Linked DNA regions of Homo sapiens. The protein of the gene in region 2 interacts with the protein of the main gene of each other region in a pairwise test. Each region holds a gene or a part of one and is shown on either strand. Other genes may lie near its edges. The genes, in order: DZIP3 and RNF38.

Region 1 (3,825 bases), on a different chromosome or scaffold from region 2:
CTTAAATAATCACTGATGAATAAAGGAACAACACATAATGTCAATAAGTAGGTTACTGATAAAAGTTCACAGATGCTCACTTACACACATGGATGTAACAAAGGAGGAAGACACTTTTTAAAAAGCAACATATTCATGCCTATAAGATGAAAGATCTAAGGATAATTTAGTGACTATATAATAACTGTTACCACTTATTTGTAAAGAAATACGGAGATTCCATTCTGGACGAATTTCATTCTACCTCTGCGCAAATGGTTTTGAAATATCCCACTTTTCTCTTCCTTTCTTTCCTCTCTATTTTAGACTATACTTTCTTCTACTTTCTAATACCTTCCCACATCCACTTCAACTGGGATTAAAAAAACATATTACAGTCTAGCATAATGCCTGCCACATAAGTGTTTAAGAAATGGTGGCAAAATAAATGGTTATGGCAGGAAAGATTATGGAAGGAAGTACTGAGGCAAGGAAGGAAAGGACCATTCCAATTCAAGCTCTGTATAAACACTATGAAAATATAAGCTAAAATTATCTGGGATGCTTTAAGTACAGCACATGCAACAAATTAAAGGCCCAGAATAAGTTCTTCTAACTCAAATATTAATGAGAGCTTATACTTCCTGGAGATCTTTAAGAGATTCTGTTGAAGATTCACTGGGTATTGAGGTCCCATCTTTATTAATTTCTGCAAACTGTATCTCAGGGTGTGATTTCACATTTATATTGTACTCCATGAGAGGTGGACTTAGTTCTTCTTCCTCATTCTGTAACTCTTCTATTTCAATACCTAAACATAAAAGACAAAATTCTCAAAATCTAGATGAAAGCAATTTCAGCTTCTTATCAATGTTATAATGTTTGCCCAAAAAAGCAACATTCACAAAACAGAAATAAAATATATCTTACTCTTTTCAATTACTCGATGAAAATGTGATGTTCATTTATCAGTTACCAAATAATATGTACAAACACCAGCCTGGAACTAATCAGTGTGAACCTGAGTGCTATGTTACCTACTGGAATCTTAGGTAGACTCTAGATATTAGATACTCTAGAACATAAGTAGACTCTAAATACTAACTTTTTGCATGTCCTGACCTTGATCCTATTAATAATGCAACTAGTATTATTTTAGCACATATATCTGAAATATAAAGAAAAAGAAGACAAAAGATCTATTTTTTCTGTTTTCTTTTTCATAAGAGGGGTGTGAGCCCCCTATTATGTGACCTTTTCTTTGAGACTTTGCTCCTTGATATTGCCCCAGAGACTCAGTCTCAAAACTTGTGGACTTTGTCTGACTGGTCTCCAGAGAGTCCAGCATTTTATCCCAAACAAATCTGTGGTGGTGTTTTTTTTAAGTATAATTTTAATTGAATAATATTAATTACACTTAAAAAAAATAGCACAAAAATGGAAATTAAACAATTACAACTTATCACCTGGCAAAAAAAGTATATAGCTATAAACAATAGACAGACTAAATAAAGTTATACACGCTAAACACCAAACAGAGAAAGCAGGAAGGTATTTTTGCCTGCTGAAGTTTTTGTGAGTAAAACGTTAGAACATCATCCTTGGGAAAACCCTGAAGCACATGCACTAAGCCAAAGGCAGAATAAAGCTCATTCTCGATTCAGCCAGACCAGTGGTGATTTGATCACATCATTTTCCAAGTTCTTTTTTTTTGAGACTGAATCTCGCTCTGTCGCCCAGGCTGGAATGCAGTGGCGTGATCTTGGCTCACTGCAACCTCTGCCTTCCATGTTCAAGCAATTTTCCTGCCTCAGCCTCTTGAGTAGCTGGGACTACAGGCACCCGCCACCACACCTGGCTAATTTTTGTATTTTTAGTAGAGACGGGGTTTCACCATGTTGGCCAAGATGGTCTCGATCTCCTGACCTTGTGATCCACCTGCCTCAGCCTCCCAAAGTACAGGGATTATAGGCGTGAGCCACTGCGCCTGGCCCAAGTTCTTCACAATTATAGTTTATCATTTAGTTTATCTGAACAAATAAAAATTTCATAGGTATCCCTTGTTAAAAAGTCATTTACACATTTTATTTCTAAATATACTTACGCTGACTGCCTGTTATTGACTGTAGAGCAATTCCTATAATACATAAAGAAAAATTTTAGATGTACAATTGCAAACGCAACAAATGAATGTCTGGCTAGGATTAAGGCAGAATATTTTTATATTGCACCAATTTATTCTGTAAGTAACTGGAAAAATAACCAGCTTTGCTCATCAATCCAGTTTAGACAAGGCACAATCTTTAGATTATCACATAAAGGTTATAAACCCATGATTAGAGAAAAAAAAGTAAACAAAAATGTGGTATCACAGATAAAGCCTAGAACACAAGCACTTTAAACCAAGCAACGAATATTTATGTTTACCATCTAAGGCCATGAAATAATAGTTAATTACACAGCAAACCTCCACTGAAAGTTGGGACCTATTTTTAGCAATCTGATTTATCTGATCATCACTTGCTCTCCTTGCCCATTAATATTTATTGAGCACCTACAATGTACATCAGGCTGTGTTAAGCTCTAGAGATTGAATGGTGAAGAAAAAAAAAGACAATCTTCATGGAGATTTAGTGGGATGATGGATGTTAATCAAATTATCAGATATCCAAATAAAAAGCAACTAGAATAGCTGAGGAAAGAAATATAAGATGGTAAGAAAGCCTCTAGTAAAGGGACTTGACCAATAAGCTCTTCAGTGTACTTGAGTAAGAACTGCTTAAAATGCTTTGAATTGAATGGGTGCTCAAAACTCTTTCTCAAATACTCTATTCTCATGAATTATTTAAAATCCTAATAGAGTAAATGTATTTTTTAAAACCCTAATTTATAAGTCAAAAATTCTTGCCTGACTTTCTTATATATCAAACTCAGTGTCCTCCTCTTTCATTCTTAGATTATGCAAGAAAACAAAGGTATTCCAGAGCCTTAGTAAATACCAGGACTGAAATTGGGCACATCAATTATCTCTGAAGAAAATCTGGACCAGTTCACTAGAAACTTTTACAGTTGTATGTTTATATAGCATCAGTGTGGTTATCAGTTGTTCATTAGGCTGTAAATAACTTGAGACCAGGAAGTCATCCTGAATAGCACAGCAGGGTTTCAGAGATGTTGTCATGCCTTGAACTCTGCTTTCCAAAAGAATAGCTGAGAAGGTATCCTGAGATGTGGGAAAGGAGGTCTGAAGTCTTTTCCGTATCAATAGACAAGTTTGGGAGTGGCCAATACAAACACTTGCATGAATGTTACCTGATTTTTAAAATTATCTACAGCCAATGAATAGCTGCTAAAATTGTAAACTAAACAAGATTCTGCTAGAAAGTAGAAGAAACATACATCCACACTGTGTCTAAACGAACATCTTTGAAACCACACAGTACTTACATGTCATGGTTTTAAACTTTATTAATTTTGGAGAATAAAACTCCACTTAAAGTGATAAAACTGTACTCAAAAGTCTTCAACAATTTCTTTCTGAAAAATGCAGACTCCTTAATGTGACAAAAAAATCCTCTTGAATGTACTCTATGAACTCTCCCCTACTTTAATCTCAATGAAGCCAACATTTTTTAGTTGCCTGCAGTATATTTTTATGTTTCTATACCTTTATTTTTGTTTCCCTCTGAAACATTCTTCTCAGTCTGCTTCACCTGGCTAACTTCTGCACACCATTAATAGTTCTTTAACTATGATACTCTCCAGAAAGCTTTTTTGGACTTCTTTAGCCTAGGATTTCCCATGGTATTCTGGAAACATCTCTAGCACTATAATTTCTATTACCTT
Region 2 (3,825 bases):
GTGGTAAATACTCTCTACTACTCTTTTGTCTTGCTATGAACGAGGACCATGATGCTTTTCAAAGAACTCAAAGCTAATTACTATTATCATCATCTGTAAACAGACATTTCTGACACTCCCTTCCTGGTCCAAGGCATTTCCTGTGACTAGCAATTCTACTCCTAGACTTACATCCTAATGAAACTTTTGCACATGTACACAGAGAAATGCACACACAAAGGTTCCTAACAGTATTGTTTATAATACTAAGAGCCGGGTGCAGTGGCTCATGCCTGTAATCCCAGCACTTTGGGAGGCCGAGGTGGATGGATCACCTGAGGTCAGGAGTTTGAGACCAGCCTGGCCAACATGGTGAAACCCCATCTCTATTAAAAATACAAAACATTAGCTGGGTGTTGTGGCAGGCACCTGTAATCCCAGCTACTTGTGAGGCTGAAGCAGGAGAATCACTTGAATGTGGGAGGTGGAGGTTGCAGTGAGCCGAGATCGCACCATTGCACTCCAGCCTGGGCAACAAGACTGAAACTACATTTCCAATAAAAAAGTTAAGAAACTGGGCATAGCTACTAGCCAACAACAGCAGGCGGATACATAAATTGTGTGGTACATTAATATAATGGAACATTATATCACAGTAATAGAACTATTGCTACTGCTATCAACATTAAAAACAGAATGCTTAATAAACAGTCAAAGAAAAATACATTTAAAGGAGAACAGGCAAAAACCAAAATCACATTATCTTAACAGTACATTCCTAAGTATTAAAAACTATGACTGAACAGGGAATAATGTCAAATTCCAGAACAAGGTTACCCTCTAAGAAAAATGAAGGGGAACGGTAGCACCTGAGGCCTTTGAGGGATCAATAACACTAATTTTCACCTAGGTGGTGGGTGTATGTATTTGTTAGCCCTTTTTTTTTTTTTTTTTTTAATTTGAGACAGAGTCTCACCCTGTCCCCCAGGCTGGAGTGCAGTGGCGCGATCTCAGGTTTTGCCATTTTGCCCAGGCTGGTCTCGAACTCTTGACTTCAGGTGATCCGCCTGCCTCGGCCTCCCAAAGCGCTGGGATTACACGTTGTCAGCCACCGCACCCGGCCTTGCTAGCCTTTTTTTGTTTTTTGTTTTAAGATGGAGTTTCGCTTTTGTTGCCTAGGCTGGAGTGCAATGCACACCCGGCTAATTTTGTATTTTTGGTAGAGACAGGGTTTCACCATGTTGGTCAGGCTGGTCTCGAACTCCTGATCTCAGGTGATCCATCCACCTCGGCCTCCCAAAGTGCTGGGATTACAGGTGCGAGCCACTGCGCCCGGCCTGCCTTTTAACTGTACATTTGTTTTATTCATCATAAAATAGGAAGACTACAGCAGGTACTCAGGCCTTAACTTTGCAATAACTATACTTTCTCATGCTTATTATATTTAATAGCTATAAAATACTTTATCTGCTAGCCATATACTATCTTACCTAAAAACATTCCCATGTAATTGGTTAATAAGGTACTGGGTAATGTAAAAGTCTTAATGTCTCAACAGAATAGAGCTCAGAGACAGGTTTATGTTCTTTCAGCTGGAACACAGAATGCTGGTTTTAAGATCCCTTCTGCATTAGCCCGCTCAGGCTGCCATAACAAAACATTGCAGACTGGGTGGCTTAAACAGATACTTAATTTCTCAAAGTTTTAAAGCCTAGAAGTTTGAAATCAAGGTACCAACATAGTCGGTTTTTGGAGAGGGATCTTTTCCCTGGCTCTTGCAGACAACTACATCTCACTGTCTCCTCATATGGTGGAGGATGAGTTCCCCGACATCTCTTTTTGAGACAGAGTCTTGCTCTGTCTCCAGGCTGGAGTGCAGTGGTGCGGTCTTGGCTCACTGCAACCTCCGCCTCCTGGGTTCAAGCAATTCCCCTGCCTCAGATTCGCCCGTCTCAGCCTCCCGAGTAGCTGGGACTACAGGTGCGCACCACCACAGCTGGCTAATTTTTTGCATCTTAGTAGAGACGAGGCTTCACCATGTTGGCCAGGATGGTCTCCTGACCTCGTGATCCGCCAACCTTGGCCTCCCAAAGTACTGGGATAACAGGCGTGAGCCACCCCGGCGCATTGCTTCTTAAAGGACATTAATCCTGCTGGGTAAGGGTCCTAACCTTATGACCTCATTTAACGTTAATTACACTTCCTTAGAGGTCACATCTCCAAATACAACCACACTGAGGGTTACAGGAAGGTTACAGCTTCAACACATTAATTGGGGAGGAGGGGTTACAAACATTTGGTCTGCAACACCTTCCTAACTCAAGATCATTGATATTCCTTCAACATCCTGGATATGCACCTCACAATGCACTCACTATTTCCCTGGGATATGAAATACATGACCTCTGGCAACAAATAATGAGGAAGAAACTCAGGAAGAAATGCACTCCTCTAGGATGAAAAGACAAGGGCCAAATCCCATTGCCTAAAAGTTGAACTAAACTTGTCATCTTTTCATACCACGGGCTCCACAGTTGTTTTTTGTTTTGTTTTTTAAATACAGTGTCTCATTCTGTCACCAACGCTAGAGTGCAGTGGAACAATCATAGCTAAGGTTCATTGCAGCCTTACACTCTTGGGCTCAAGCAATCCTCCTGTCTCAGTTTCATCTTGGACTACAGATGTGCGCCAACATCCTCAGCTAATTTTTTGTTTTTTTGAGAGAGACAGGGTCTTGCTATGTTGCCCAGGCTGGTCTCGAACTCCTGGCCTCAAGTGATCCTCCCACTTTGGCTTCCCAAAATGTTGCGATTATAGGCATGAGCTACTACTGTGCCAAGTCTCCATGGGTTTATAAGAAACATAATTAAGCTCCTAATTGCCTTTGAGGATACAGAAGGAAAAGGAATGGAGTAGAAAAGGAGTAGCTCATTTCTAAGACTTCCATATATCCTTACAGTTATGAACTACAAAATGCATCTTCTAATAGTCAAGATCGCAGGCTAGTCCACAACAATCTGTACCTTAAGTAGCTAATTTCATATATAATGGCATCGACTGATTTTAGCCTCTTTCCATTTCTTCATCTGTCAATGATAAGCTAAATAAACTCTTCTAACCTACTGGAAATCTAGGCAACTTTCTTTTTCGTGAGTGAATGTACGTGTATATGTGGTGATGTGTTTATGAAATGCCTACAGAAAAAATGTTTTCTGATGTTAAATATACTCACAAATCTACCAATGGAAGAAAACTTAAGAAATAAATTGTAATCAACTAACCTTCTTCTGTTGCGTGCAGGTGTGTTGCATCGTTCCCCTGAGAAGTGATGTTGGCTTGGTCGAACTGAAGGGGGCTGCCTATTTGATGTCATCTCCCATGGTCGCATTGGTGGTGAGGGAGCTGGTGATGCTGATGTATAATCAAAGACTGAATGAGAGAGGCGCTGTCTCTTAGGACTTGGACTATCTTCACTCTGCCAATGCAACAAAATGGATCAACTGAGTAAGATCTTTTAAAGATTTCACATTACTGCATATGCACAGGTGTTAGGATGTACTTAACCTAAAATCTAAAAATGTAAAGCGGGGAAAAAAATATATGCTATCAATTCAAATTTAAAACCTTTAAAAAATGCTGGGATGGGGTAGAACAGGGGAGGGAGATGCACAGTAAATGATACGAAGTGAAAAATAAGCTTTGTTTTTAAAAACTCATTCTAAGGCAAATGAGGTAACGACATATAGGGTATAAAACAGCATAATAAAACTTTCGTGTAGTACTCGACCTTCTCTTTAAATTCCCAAACCACCTGAAAAATTACACTACACTACAATCTCCCATCAA

What was found.
Region 1: the proteins of RNF38 (region 2) and DZIP3 interact in a two-hybrid assay, tested with the Homo sapiens proteins (one large-scale study listed by BioGRID and IntAct).

Annotation. Positions count from the first base shown.
Region 1 is NC_000003.12:108,644,908-108,648,732, reverse strand, and holds part of DZIP3 (E3 ubiquitin-protein ligase DZIP3), read right to left. Parts: intron 2,117-3,825; coding exon 2,084-2,116; intron 791-2,083; coding exon 621-790; coding exon of another isoform or gene 615-620; exon of another isoform or gene 1-614. UniProt on the Homo sapiens protein: E3 Ubiquitin ligase proteins mediate ubiquitination and subsequent proteasomal degradation of target proteins.
Region 2 is NC_000009.12:36,372,674-36,376,498, forward strand, and holds part of RNF38 (E3 ubiquitin-protein ligase RNF38), read right to left. Parts: intron 3,455-3,825; coding exon 3,261-3,454; intron 1-3,260. UniProt on the Homo sapiens protein: Acts as an E3 ubiquitin-protein ligase able to ubiquitinate p53/TP53 which promotes its relocalization to discrete foci associated with PML nuclear bodies. Exhibits preference for UBE2D2 as a E2 enzyme.